Homo sapiens: one gene and its partner. The protein of the gene in region 1 interacts with the protein of each later gene in a biochemical or structural test. Each region holds a gene or a part of one and is shown on either strand. Other genes may lie near its edges.

Region 1 (4,513 bases):
CTTGTTGTAGTAGATGGCAAAAATGGCCTCAATAGGGTACAGCTCCTCGCATTAAGACATGAGTCTATTACCCCACTCCTTGAATCTGGGCTGGCCTTGTGACTTGTTTTGACCAATACAGTCTGACAGAAATGATAATGTGCTCTGAGTCTTCAAGAAGCCTAAAGCCTATCTTATTTCTACTCTTGGGAATCCTGTAATCACTGCTATGTGAACAAGCCCTGTTGGATGATGAGAGATGTGGTTCAATTACCCTCATCACTCCAGCTAACATTCAGACAACAGCCAGACACATGAGTGAGACTATTGGCCATCAGTTGACCACAGACATGTGGGTAAGCCCAGCTTAAACCAGCAGAGAAATCACATGGCCGACCCACAGACTTGTGATTTAAATTGACGGCTATGTTTTTAAGCTATTAAGCTTTGGCTTGGTTTCTTATGAAGTAAAATATGACATACCATGGTTACATGCTTTTGTAAAAATAGGTATAATAAGCCCACACTTAGATGGCCTGTTTTCTCCCTCTAGGACCAGGGCCTCACATTAGACTGTTTCAGCTGATGGAGAATCCAGGCTCAGCTCTTACAGGGAGTGCCTGATGAGGGAGTTGTCTTGAAAAGTTTGTAAGTCTGTACTCAGGCACTTATAGGAATTCCCTAAGGCTCTAAGAATGAAGAGAGGGCTGAGGGCACTGGGTCAGAAAGCAAATTTGGGTATCTTCCTTTGAAGGAACAGGAGAAGGGGCACCTCTTACCAGATACTCAAGGTCTCAGAACCCTGGGTGAAGTCAGCTCAGACCTTGCTGGGGTCCTTACCCGGACTTTTTCCAGGGTCTCCTTTTTGGCCCTTTGGTCCTGGTGACCCAGAAGGCCCTGGATTTCCTGGAGGCCCCAACTTTCCAGGGGGGCCCTGTAAGCCTCTGAGCCCTTGGCCTGTTGGAAGACAAAGGAAATGTGACTTAATATCTATGTTCTTGCTCTCTCTCTTCAAGAGTTTGATGCCCAATCCCTTCTCAGGAGAAAGGAGACCTTGACCCAGGACTGACCTTTCTGAGCACTGCTCTCAATAACTGTATGGTGGGCACCTGAGAGCAATAACTTAAGAAATAAAGTTGCCACGTGGAGGTTGCTGCAGGGAGGGTGCAAAGTGAAAATTAACTGCATTTGTTTTTACCAGTAGTTGTTGTTCTCCTGTCCAGCCCACTGCTGCTGGATCTCCCTGTAAACAGATTCCCCCAGTAAAACCTATGTTTGTTTGCTGACTCCATCTCTTCTTTGGCCTCTTGAACCTGGTGCCATCCCTACTGAAGTGAATAGGGGTCTGACATGACAATGACCCAGAGAAGAAAAATTCATCCTGTGTCCCACGGGATGGCCTGACCTGTGGGCCACTTTCCTGGGCTGGCAAGACAACTATTAGTCACAAACTGCTGTGTGGAATTCTGAGATGCCAGAGAATGAGAGCTGAATCTCTGTTTTGAGTTACAGTATAGTTGAGAAAAATATACTCAAATAGGACATCAGTCTCCTCATATCCCCAGGCAGTTTCCTCTGGAAGGTAAAGAATTGCAGAGACAGAACAGCCCAACACGTACCTGGTTCCCCCTTTTCTCCCTTGGTGCCATCACGCCCATCTTTGCCTGGGAAGCCGTTGATGCCTGGAGAGCTACAGGCAATCACTGCAGGGCAGGTCTTTTGGGCATCCTCACAGGTCACAGTTTCTGAGTAAGACGCTGCCACCATACTCAGGAGAAGGAGAGGGAGTGATGGAAACAGGGACATGGTCCTCACCTTGGTGTGAGAAAACTCAGGGAAGGTTAATCTCAGTTAATGAACACATATTTACCGAGCATGCCCTCTGTCCTACAATCTGGGTGCAGGCTATATAGAAATAGATGACCCATCCCTGGCCTCTAGCTGGGGATTTGGAAAAGTAAACATTCCTTGTGACACTGCGTGACTAGTACTTTAACAAAGGTAGGCACTATGATGAGCAGTGGGGATCCTAAGGAGGGGTTCATCTGTGCCTAGACACCTGGCGTTGCTGCTGGAAGACTATAAACATGCTTTCGGTGGCAGTGAGAACAAATGGGACCGTGCATTGCCAGCTGGCTTATGCCTGTTAGCTTAGGGAATGAGAATGAGTGGAAACCCAGGTGTCTGTAGGAGCTTCCTCTTTCTCTCCATGTCCTCTTCGGGTCCATCTGCCACCTGAATCCCATCTTTGTATCTGGGCAGCTGATTCCCCTCCAGGACCTGTTAACTATCATTTACTCATTGGCAGGCCCTGAGCTGAAAGCTGGTGATCCAAAGAGGAAGGTCTCAACCTCAGATCAACCTCAACCTTAGTCACCAACCCAGCCCAGAATTAACTGGAGTTTGCTTCCCCTTGGTGTTTTAGACAGGCTTGCCTGGGTAAGCATTTTCTCTGGAAATTTCTTACTACGTTGGCCCTGGCAGAGTGCTAAATACCTCTCTACTTTCTGGCAGGAATTCCCCATGTTCTGTGAGTCAAAAACCACTGGCAATTAGAAAACTTGCCTTGAATCCTCCTCCCATTTCTCAGTATTAACCTTTCATTTGTTCTTCAGAGCTTTCTTCCAGCTATTGCCCCCTAAGAAACCTCAGCAGCCTAGCCCCATAGGTCTAAGCCTCCAAGTTTCCCTTTGAAAACAAAGACAGTCTCCACTGCAGATGAACAGATAATGGAGGAAAGTCACAGATGCTCCAGCACAAGCAGAAAAAGAGACATCCTCAACCTGATTTCTGCTTTCCATCCCACTCCCCCCACCCCTAGAAAGCCTCCTCCATGCCTCCAGGGTCATGTCAGCTCCCCAAACCCTTGATCCGGAAACCCAGATTTATTCACCAGAAATGACTTACTGGTGTTTCTGCAGAGCAGGGACTCAGTGACAAGGACGCTGGCCCTCTAGCCTGGGGCTCTGGCAGATGCCTCAGAGTGAGGGAGGAGGCTGGGCTCAGCAATGTAGGGCCCAATCAACCTTGTGAACAAGGATATCCTGGGCCTGGCCTTCAACTCCAGATTAATAAACAGCTCTTCTCAGAACTATGAGAAATTTAGGAGCCTCCAATACAGTGCTCGGCAGCTGTCTGCTTTAATACAGCACAATTCCTCTTTCAATTGCCATCCATTTTGGCAAATCTCATTGCTGAACTACCACAGCTAGGTTCACCTAGTTAGTCCTGTTGACATCCTTGTTTCCAACAGAAAAACAAAGATACTCACAAATGCATACACATGCTCATGCACACCAACTATACACACAGACACGTGCATGCACGCACACACCCATCCATGAAACCACATAGACCTCTTGCTGCCATTAATGCATTAAGGCCATTCCTGCCTCAGACTCTTCATTTGATGTCTCCATGCCTGGACCCCTTACGGGCATCGCCAGCTAGCTCTTTCTCTTCTATTCAAATATTCCAATTTCAGAGAAATCAGTACCTTGATCACTTATTCTAAAATAGTCCTACCTAGCAGTCTCTATCCTCTTAGCCTGAATTATTTTCTCTCATGTTACTTACACTTTATGATATTATAGTCATTGACTTTACTTTTCCAGTTTTTCATTGTGGTAAAATAGACATAAAATTTACCATTTTGACCATTATTATTAAGCACACAACTCAGTAGCATTAAGTACATTCACACGGTTGTGCTATCATCACCACATCATGGGATGATTTTCATCATCCCAAACTGAAACTCTCAACTCATTAAACTAGAATTCTCCATTTACCCCTACCCACAGCCACTGGTAACTTCTGTTTTACTTTCTGTCTCTCTGAATTCATCTATCCTAGGTACCTCATATATGTGAAATCATACAATAGCCCCCTTGTATCTGGCTTATTTCACTTAGCACAATGTCTTCAAATTTCATCCTCATAACAAGAATTGTAAACTGTGTTAAAGACTTTGGGTTTCCTTCCAGGGGGCACTAGAGGGACTGCAGTAGTGGAGAGGTGATCACATTTGAATTTTGCAAGGCTTGTTCTGGCTATGATGTTGAGGGGAACAGGACTGGAGAAAAGCAGATCTAAAAGGAAGTGCTTGCCATGATCTAAGCAGCAGAAGACAGTGGCCTGGGTCAGGGTAATGGCAGCTAGATTAAGAAGGTAGGCACACTTGAGAAACAGGAGGTATTGATTGCACTTGAGAATTAGCTAGAATAGTGAGTGATAATAAGAAGTTTTCATGGGCACACACATTTATGACTTGACTATCTAGGAGCCACTCAACTGAGATAAGAAGCAAAAGAACAGCACTTGGCACTATAAGATCATGGGTATCGTGTGTGTTAATGGCTTGAACCATCTTGCTGTGGTTAATGGGGACAATCTAGAAGGGATGGAAGAATACTTTTACGAACATAGTTCATTTGATTCTCAACTACATTACTGATATGGCTTTCAGAAAAATGCCATGTAGCTTGGGGTGTTGGGGAGCCCATCCTGAGAAGTTCAGAGGCTGCGGGGCCAT
Region 2 (3,810 bases), about 70 Mb from region 1:
ACAAACTCTGCCTCTTCTGGATAGAAATCTCGGAATCATAATCTCGGAATGTTTCCAGCAGTGATGGATGGGGGTATCGAGCCTGCCCTGACGATGCCTTGAACGGGTCAGAGGGTGACACCCTCAATTTTCAGAAACTATATGTGAGTCCGGAATATAAAAGGACCAAAGCTCATTAAACATGGGGCCACTTCCTGAACCTGTAAGGGTTGTCCACTGGGACAGTATGAAACTGTTTCATGAAAGCTGAGAGGGGTTGAAAAGAAGACAGAGGCCTCCTCAATCCTGTGTGTGTTTAAAAAGCGCTGTGCTGGGATCTCAGTTACACAGCCGGTGTTGGGGGTGGAAATAATATGCCCCACAGTATCCACACAGAGAAACAGGAGAGCTCTGTGGAGTGTGGAAGGGGTGATTGGGCAGAAAGAGAAGGGACATTTTGAGGAAGGACACTGGGGACCTACCTGGGCTGGGTGTCGGCCGGGACTGGGGAGCTGTGAGAAAGAGAAGAGAAGGTCAGATCAGGAACATTACACAGAAGTCGGCAAAACTGGAACGAGGAGGGAAAGAAATGAGCGAGTCTGACACTCAGTCCATCCTAGTTCCTATCACACAGGGAGGGACATTGCCATGCACATCCCCACAGAGATGCACCGTGTAAGGGGTCGAGGCAGATCCTGTCCACTATTGCCAGCTCTGAGGTGATCAAATTGTGTCTGCCCAGGGTAACCCGGTTGACCTAAACCAACCCACTCCCTTGCACATCTTAGGTGTTCCTGAGTCAGCAAGGCTGAGGAAGCCACTCCAGCCAAAATCCCTTGTGCGATCTTCAAGCCCCAATCACAGGCAATGACAAGGCCATGTCTGGCTGGCCTCATGGGGACTGCCCTCCCCTCACCAGACCTAGAACACAGGCAATGCTCAGCAGCGTTCTGAGAAGAGCTGAGGTCAAGAACTCCAACCCCACGCAACCCAGGCCTGATACAAACAGACACCCATTTGCACTCCTAACCCTTGAGCCTCTATTTCCAGACCTCCTCACTGGGTCTCAGCTGAGAACCCACTTTTAGCCAAGCATCTTTAGTTCAGAGTTCCTCGCAGTGAGGGGATCCCTCCCCTGCCTTGCTGTCTGTGCTGCATCCATTATACCCTCACACCGTGCTACTCAGCAGGGGAGAAATGGAGCCCTGGGGAGCCGGCACTTTTCTCTTCTGCCTCTTCCTTGCCTTGCCTCAGGAAGGGGAAAAACTCTGGGTTGTTTTAGTTTGATCCCCTGTCCTAAGTGACCACAGGAACACTAGGCAGTGAGTACATATGGATTCTTAGCAGAGAGCTGACAAGTCTTCAGAAACATAGAAAACATAGAAGCTTTGAGTGAGGAGATCAGAATGTAATTAGGAGTTTCTTTTGGAGCAAACTCCACCCCAAGAGAGTGAGCCCAAGTTCTTGAAGGCCCACCTGAGCAGATGACACCAGCGTCTTCACTATGGCCACAGTTGTGGGTGAGCCAGCCATTGTGGGGGCAGCTCCACAGGTAGGACTCATGTCCTGAGCAGCGCACATCATCCAGGACAATGGGTCCTGAGCCCTGGCCAAACTGGGCATTTCCTGGGGCTGACATGGCCCAGCCACAGCCCAGCTGCCTGCAGACCACATTGGCATCATTGGTGTCCCAGTAGTCATCACACACGGTGCCCCAGGAGCCTCGGTATAGGACCTCCACTCGGCCTCGACACCTGTCGCCTCCATTCACCAGCCTCAGGGCCAAACTGGATTCAGATCCTACAGGGGAACACAAGAACCCTTCATCCATCCCTATCATGAGGTCAAGAATCTAAGGTAAGTTCCACACTCAGGGTACTTCCTAATGAACTAAGTCACCTAGGCAGGCAGTCACCTTTGCATATGACCACAGACTAGGCTTCATCACCGTGAAAGTAGCACTGATAACCTACTCTGCCCAGGTCTATGGATGCTCAACTTTTGGGGAAGCACCTGTGACCCCAGTGGATGTGATGGGAATGGATGCCCCACTCCCCAGTTGGGTACACAGAGGATGGAGCTGCTCAGCTCCAGATGGCAGGCCCAGACCCCTCCCTTATTCAGGAGCATGGTCCTATCTGGGATCTGACTGGCAGAGTACCAGAGATGGCAGGGATGAGGTCCCCATAGGATTAGGGAGACCCCCAGGGCTTGTTCTGAGCCCATAGATAAGGATCTTTTCTGACCACTTGGAACAGGATCCCACAGGAGACAGGTCACCAGCACCCTCCACCCTCCAATATCACATCTAATTCTGGGTTTTCAGAGACTCCAGCTTCCTCCCTACCCAACCCACAGAAACATGAAAAAGCAAGGGGCCCACCTTGAGCCTCATCCTATCATGAGCCTAATGATTCCTAATGATCTTCTGGGAGGTCCTGCTCTTGTTCCCAGTGCCGAGCTGACTCTTGAGCCAACTGTTTATCACCTGCTGCCACCCTCCCACGCTTAGCCCACTTCCCCACCTCTCTTTATGGCAATCATAAGTGAACTATGAAATCCAAAGTGTATCCAGAGGTAGAAAGTGAGCCCCAGGGAGTGTTGAGAGGATTCTTTACCTTCTGTGGGTACAGGTGGTGATATCCTGACAGGCCAACTTTCTGTAAACAGCAACAAAGAGAAAGGATACAATTGGACTTGAAGGGAAAAAGGTAAAAAACAAGCGGTTCTCTGGACCAGGCAAGCACTGTGAAAACAATTCCACTCGAAGGTCTGGCCACTTGCTCCCCATGTGTCTGCCCAGGTCTCCTGCCCAGGGAACTCATTCAGGGACAAAGGACACCATGCAGGCCCTTCCACCTCTCTCTGAGAGAGGGATGACCTATTCGCAGTTAGGAAACCTTCACCACCCCCATCCCCCACCATCCACTGACGCGTGGACTGACTGGCTCATCTGACACCACTGCCAAGACTTGACACTTGCAGCTAAAATGTTCGGGATACTAGGGGTCCGCCCTGGGGGAAATCAGGTTTCCTGGTAAGTGAAGGCACCAGAAACATTTCTTAGCCTCTCTCTCCCCTCAGCATGGCCTCTGCCTCTTCTGAATGCAGACGTGGCCCTGCAGAATCTGGGGGTTTTTCAAGTAGTGAGAGATGGGGGTATCAAGCCTGTACTGACCTTGCCTTCAACAGAACATTAGAGGGTCTCACCCTCAATTCTCAGAAAGGTTGTGTCAGCCCTGAATATAAAGAGGCCAAAGCTCATTAAACAGCAGGCTTCTTTCTGAACTTCTAAGAGTTGTTCATTGGGACAGCATGGAACTGTGTGATGAAAGCTGAGATGGACTGAAGAGAAGGCAGAAGCTAAATCCCATGTGTGGTTAAGAAGCCCCATGCTAGGGTCTCAGTTACAGAGTTGGGGGTGAAATAATATGCCCCAGAGTATCTGCAGAGAAGCAGGAGGGCTCTGTGGAGTAGGGAAGGGGTAACTGAGCAGAAAGAGAAGGGGTATCCCGAGGAAGGATTCTGGGGACTCACCTGGCCTGAGTGTTGACTGAGGCTGGGCAGCTGTGAGAAAAAAATAGCAACATTAGACACCAAACACTCAGTGACTCCAAGTAGAGTTAAGGCTGAAGTGACTTGGGGTATCTACACCCTGAGCTGATGCCCATCACACGCCCACCAAGTGGGCCCTGCCAGTGCCCACCGTGAAGCCCTCGGTCCCTCAGGGACCCCACAGCCCCTGGCATTGCCTTCTCTGTGCCTGTGGCTCACTCTCCAGGGATATGAAGGTCACTTCGGTGCCTGGGACCGGCCACAACAACCTCGGTA

The links.
Region 2: the proteins of MBL2 (region 1) and DMBT1 form a complex in vitro, tested with the Homo sapiens proteins (one study listed by IntAct).

What each region holds. Positions count from the first base shown.
Region 1 is NC_000010.11:52,769,851-52,774,363, forward strand, and holds the start of MBL2 (mannose-binding protein C precursor), read right to left. Parts: upstream 2,935-4,513; 5' UTR 2,887-2,934; intron 1,810-2,886; exon of another isoform or gene 1,795-1,809; 5' UTR 1,786-1,794; coding exon 1,599-1,785; intron 937-1,598; coding exon 820-936; intron 1-819. UniProt on the Homo sapiens protein: Calcium-dependent lectin involved in innate immune defense. Binds mannose, fucose and N-acetylglucosamine on different microorganisms and activates the lectin complement pathway.
Region 2 is NC_000010.11:122,577,547-122,581,356, reverse strand, and holds part of DMBT1 (scavenger receptor cysteine-rich domain-containing protein DMBT1 isoform e precursor), read right to left. Parts: intron 3,547-3,810; coding exon 3,517-3,546; intron 2,640-3,516; coding exon 2,598-2,639; intron 1,780-2,597; coding exon 1,456-1,779; intron 492-1,455; coding exon 462-491; intron 1-461.